2 linked regions of the Homo sapiens genome follow. The protein of the gene in region 1 interacts with the protein of each later gene in a biochemical or structural test. Each region holds a gene or a part of one and is shown in the gene's direction. Other genes may lie near its edges.

What was found. The genes of interacting proteins can lie anywhere in the genome.
Region 2: the proteins of NELFCD (region 1) and UBE3A form a complex in vitro, tested with the Homo sapiens proteins (one study listed by BioGRID).

What each region holds. Positions count from the first base shown.
Region 1 is NC_000020.11:58,993,344-58,995,682, forward strand, and holds the end of NELFCD (negative elongation factor C/D), read left to right. Parts: intron 1-105; coding exon 106-201; intron 202-280; coding exon 281-421; intron 422-766; coding exon 767-896; intron 897-1,298; coding exon 1,299-1,333; 3' UTR 1,334-1,770; downstream 1,771-2,339. Other genes in the region: CTSZ (cathepsin Z preproprotein), read right to left, coding at 2,306-2,339. UniProt on the Homo sapiens protein: Essential component of the NELF complex, a complex that negatively regulates the elongation of transcription by RNA polymerase II.
Region 2 is NC_000015.10:25,369,512-25,373,171, reverse strand, and holds part of UBE3A (ubiquitin-protein ligase E3A), read left to right. Parts: intron 1-1,359; coding exon 1,360-2,606; intron 2,607-3,660. UniProt on the Homo sapiens protein: E3 ubiquitin-protein ligase which accepts ubiquitin from an E2 ubiquitin-conjugating enzyme in the form of a thioester and transfers it to its substrates.

The sequences.
Region 1 (2,339 bases):
TCTTCCACAGTGATAAGCTCTTTGGTGGCTGTGACAGTGCCCAGTTTCTCTGTGTGCTGAGCGTGACCACACTGCTCAGCGAAGCTCCCTCTGGCCTGTTTGTAGATCAGCACCTGCCACCAGCTCCTGCACCCCCAGGTCCTGCAGCTGCTTGTTAAGCTTTTTGAGACTGAGCACTCCCAGCTGGACGTGATGGAGCAGGTGAGCAGTGCCCGTGGGGCTTGCCAGAGGGCTGAGGAGGACCCTCTCTAACCAGCTCCCTGTCCCCCTTCTTCTGTAGCTTGAGTTGAAGAAGACACTGCTGGACAGGATGGTTCACCTGCTGAGTCGAGGTTATGTACTTCCTGTTGTCAGTTACATCCGAAAGTGTCTGGAGAAGCTGGACACTGACATTTCACTCATTCGCTATTTTGTCACTGAGGTCAGCAATGCACCGTTGGTTTCATGTTTCATACTGTTTACACTAGCACTGCCCTTTTTGGCTTAATTTAGTTCATTTTGTACCTAACTGAGAACTGTGCTTTCTGATGTAGTGATGACAATGACAGATACTCGTTTACCAAAAAGCACCTTCTGCCTGCAGCAGCTGTATGACACACTTTACCTCCATTACCACCCTGGGCATCTGAATGTTGGAGATGGGTGGTGTCACCGGCCGGTGGGGGTGGGGAGGGATTTTTTCCAAACTGATGGCCATTTCACCCGGATGTCGGTGGATGCCCCGCACTAGTGTGCGGAAGAAGTCACCCTGTGCTCCCCCACGCAGGTGCTGGACGTCATTGCTCCTCCTTATACCTCTGACTTCGTGCAACTTTTCCTCCCCATCCTGGAGAATGACAGCATCGCAGGTACCATCAAAACGGAAGGCGAGCATGACCCTGTGACGGAGTTTATAGGTGAGGCCGACTGCCTAGCCCTTTACTACAATAGAAAATGTCAGCTGGGCGCGGTGGCTCATGCCTGTAATCCCAGCACTTTGGGAGGCCAAGGTGGGTGGATCACCTGAGGTTGGGAGTTCAAGACCAGCCCGACCAACATGGAGAAACCCCATCTCTACTAAAAATACAGCATTAGCTGGGCATGGTGGCACGTGCCTGTAATCCTAGCTACTCGGGAGGCTGAGGCAGGAGAATCGCTTAACCTGGGAGGCAGAGGTTGCAGTGAGCCAAGATCGCGCCATTGCACTCTATCCTGGGCAACAAGAGCAAAACTGCATCTCAAAAAAAAAAAAAAAAAAGAAAGAAAATGTCATGTTCTACTTCCTGTTTCTAACACAGTCACTGTTTTCCTCGTTAAAGCTCACTGCAAATCTAACTTCATCATGGTGAACTAATTTAGAGCATCCTCCAGAGCTGAAGCAGAACATTCCAGAACCCGTTGTGGAAAAACCCTTTCAAGAAGCTGTTTTAAGAGGCTCGGGCAGCGTCTTGAAAATGGGCACCGCTGGGAGGAGGTGGATGACTTCTTTACAAAGGAAAATGGTAGCAGCTTCAGTGAGAAACTGCCCTTACAAACAGTCCCTTCTCTGCTGTCAATCCAATACTGCTCCCAAATCCTGTTTTCAGTGTTCATTTCCCTCAAGGCAGGCGCTGGGCTCCCACGACCCCTCAGGACAGATCTGGCCGTCAGCCGCGGGCCGCTGGGAACTCCACTCGGGGAACTCCTTTCCAAGCTGACCTCAGTTTTCTCACAAGAACCCAGTTAGCTGATGTTTTATTGTAATTGTCTTAATTTGCTAAGAACAAGTAATAAGTAAATTTTTAAAAAGCCTTTCTGCTGGGTTGGATTAAGTCCTGATGTGACATTGTTTTTGTGTGCGAATAAGGCACGGGCAGCCTCAGTCTCGTGCAGAGCCAGATACTTTATTCATCACTTGGGCGATTTGAAACTGCCAACTCCCTCCCTCCCTCCCCCACCCTTGATTCTAAAGTGACATAAGAATGGTGATAAGTCTGAACTCTTTCACCTCTTAAATGCCATATTATTGCCCACAGTTGCCAAATACAAAATATCAAGTCCTCTGCTGAAGAAGACTGAGGTCCCATCGTTTCCTGTGTCGCAGGTCACTTCTTCACCAGGTGGCTGACTGCATCATTGTGAGGCAGAGCCATGCTGTGCAAGTGTCATAAGTCATCCCACTTTCAACTCTCAGGAACACTCGCAGCCAGTGCCACGCTGTCCTCGCCATCCAATATTGATAGCCACCCCAGTTCCTGCCAGCCAGCCTGGCACACATAACCATAGGATCCCCTCTGGTCATGGGTCACCATGCCTTTTCTTAAACTGCGCTTCTAGTGACATGGCCTTAAACGATGGGGTCCCCAAATGTACAGTGCTCC
Region 2 (3,660 bases), on another chromosome or scaffold:
AGAAATAGGTTTCCAGTGGTTTTATGCTTTTGGGGAAGAGGTTACTGATGTTTAGCAAAAGATGCTTATATATTCTTAATAGAACAAACCTGAGAATTAGTTCTTAAAGAGTTAAGGCCCATAAAAGAAACTGTAAGTGTTGGTACTCTTGTAGCTGGGCCACAGATCAGATCCTTAGTATGATAAAATTTGGTATTTTTGTGCTTCAATTTTTGGAGACCATTCAATGATCACTTACATTTTATATTGTCTTTCATTGTGAAACATATATTATAGCAGAGGTGGGAGTCATTAAAAATTCTACATGTTGTACACTACATGTATAAGGGTATATTTGGCGCAATGGAGGTAGGATTGTCTGTGTGCCTCTAAAATTAACCTCTCAAGTAGTTAATCTGATGATGACAAGTATGTCACTTTATTGATAAAAGGGAGAATTAAGACTATTCTCAGTATTATGTTGGTCAGTACACAAAATATATCATTTGTTTTTACCTGTGAAATGAAATATCTTTCATCCTATTAGCCAGAAGGGAGAAAGCCTTGGCCTGAAAATAACACTTATCTCAAAAAGTTGGGAAATGTGGTCCAACTCTGTGCCCAGGAAAAGAGGAAATAGATTTTGATGACTACATAGTCTCTGCACTGCTTGCCAGCTCATAAGTTTACTTCTTTGCACTGTTTGTTTTCATTGCTCAAAAACTATTTTCTGTCACTCTATGAGATTTAGTCTAACCTGATTCCTGGCTGTGGAAAGCAGTTTCTACTTAAGAGCCGATGAGAAATGGTATATTCTTCTCAATCACTCACAGAATGACTACCCTGGAACAAACTAGGAAGACCCAAAATGAACCAGTTTGATTTTAATACATACATAGATGCTGAAGGAGCCTTTTTTTAAGACCTTGCCTTCTTAGTCTTTGGAGAACAGAGTACTGAAACAAGAAAACTCACAGATTAGTAGTATTTCTGTGTGTTCTACAGTGAGGTTTTAAGAGCTGTATTATGATTAATCAGTACATGACATATTGGTTCATATTTATAATTAAAGCTATACATTAATAGATATCTTGATTATAAAGAAAGTTTAAACTCATGATCTTATTAAGAGTTATACATTGTTGAAAGAATGTAAAAGCATGGGTGAGGTCATTGGTATAGGTAGGTAGTTCATTGAAAAAAATAGGTAAGCATTAAATTTTGTTTGCTGAATCTAAGTATTAGATACTTTAAGAGTTGTATATCATAAATGATATTGAGCCTAGAATGTTTGGCTGTTTTACTTTTAGAACTTTTTGCAACAGAGTAAACATACATATTATGAAAATAAATGTTCTCTTTTTTCCTCTGATTTTCTAGATGTGACTTACTTAACAGAAGAGAAGGTATATGAAATTCTTGAATTATGTAGAGAAAGAGAGGATTATTCCCCTTTAATCCGTGTTATTGGAAGAGTTTTTTCTAGTGCTGAGGCATTGGTACAGAGCTTCCGGAAAGTTAAACAACACACCAAGGAAGAACTGAAATCTCTTCAAGCAAAAGATGAAGACAAAGATGAAGATGAAAAGGAAAAAGCTGCATGTTCTGCTGCTGCTATGGAAGAAGACTCAGAAGCATCTTCCTCAAGGATAGGTGATAGCTCACAGGGAGACAACAATTTGCAAAAATTAGGCCCTGATGATGTGTCTGTGGATATTGATGCCATTAGAAGGGTCTACACCAGATTGCTCTCTAATGAAAAAATTGAAACTGCCTTTCTCAATGCACTTGTATATTTGTCACCTAACGTGGAATGTGACTTGACGTATCACAATGTATACTCTCGAGATCCTAATTATCTGAATTTGTTCATTATCGTAATGGAGAATAGAAATCTCCACAGTCCTGAATATCTGGAAATGGCTTTGCCATTATTTTGCAAAGCGATGAGCAAGCTACCCCTTGCAGCCCAAGGAAAACTGATCAGACTGTGGTCTAAATACAATGCAGACCAGATTCGGAGAATGATGGAGACATTTCAGCAACTTATTACTTATAAAGTCATAAGCAATGAATTTAACAGTCGAAATCTAGTGAATGATGATGATGCCATTGTTGCTGCTTCGAAGTGCTTGAAAATGGTTTACTATGCAAATGTAGTGGGAGGGGAAGTGGACACAAATCACAATGAAGAAGATGATGAAGAGCCCATCCCTGAGTCCAGCGAGCTGACACTTCAGGAACTTTTGGGAGAAGAAAGAAGAAACAAGAAAGGTCCTCGAGTGGACCCCCTGGAAACTGAACTTGGTGTTAAAACCCTGGATTGTCGAAAACCACTTATCCCTTTTGAAGAGTTTATTAATGAACCACTGAATGAGGTTCTAGAAATGGATAAAGATTATACTTTTTTCAAAGTAGAAACAGAGAACAAATTCTCTTTTATGACATGTCCCTTTATATTGAATGCTGTCACAAAGAATTTGGGATTATATTATGACAATAGAATTCGCATGTACAGTGAACGAAGAATCACTGTTCTCTACAGCTTAGTTCAAGGACAGCAGTTGAATCCATATTTGAGACTCAAAGTTAGACGTGACCATATCATAGATGATGCACTTGTCCGGGTAAGTTGGGCTGCTAGATTAAAAACCTAATAATGGGGATATCATGATACAGTTCAGTGAATTCATTTTAAAAGTGACTGAAAAAAATGATACCATATAGCATAGGAACACATGGACATTTCTGATCTTATATAAGTATTATACTTTTGTTGTTCCTGTGCAAGTTTATAGATGTGTTCTACAAAGTATCGGTTGTATTATATAATGGTCATGCTATCTTTGAAAAAGAATGGGTTTTCTAAATCTTGAAAACTAAATCCAAAGTTTCTTTCATTCAGAAGAGAATAGAGTGTTGGACAAAGACCAGAACAAGAGAAATGTGGAGATACCCAATAATAAGTGTGGATGTGCAGTCTTGAACTGGGAGTAATGGTACAGTAAAACCATACCATAAAATTATAGGTAGTGTCCAAAAAATTCCATCGTGTAAAATTCAGAGTTGCATTATTGTGGACTTGATGAAGTGACCATGGCAGATCAGTGCCTGTTGCCAGTAAGAGTTGAGTCCTGCTGGGCCACTTAGAATATCCCTGTGTGGACGGCACTGCCTGGCTGTGGTAGTTTCTTCCCACTTAAAAATTCATAGAGACAACTCTGGGTCTTGGAACTTCTGGAAAACAGCAGCTATTCCAAAAATCTGGGGATTAGTGGTGCCTGTAACATCAAGTCCAGGGAGATTGAGCAGGGAAATACTGGAAACTCAGGTACTCATCCTAACTTCCTGGTTTTCCAGATGGGGTTGCCATTTGTTCCTTTTCTTTCCTCCACAAGATAATTTTAGTGTATCTGTTTAAGAATATAAGAGTGGCCAGAAGACAGAAAGCAGTCGTCAGTCACATTTCACCAAAATTTACATTTGTCTCAGGTGCATTATCGCAGAGCTTTATTGTATTTCTAGTATTAGCTATCCCTGTCATTGCTGCTACTTTTTTATCATCTTCAAGTAAAATTTAATGTCAACAAAAATTAAGGTAGTTAATAATACTATAGTATACTAGTAAAGTTGTCTGACACAGACAACTAGGAAATGTGATTTTTACTTTAAAATGTATTT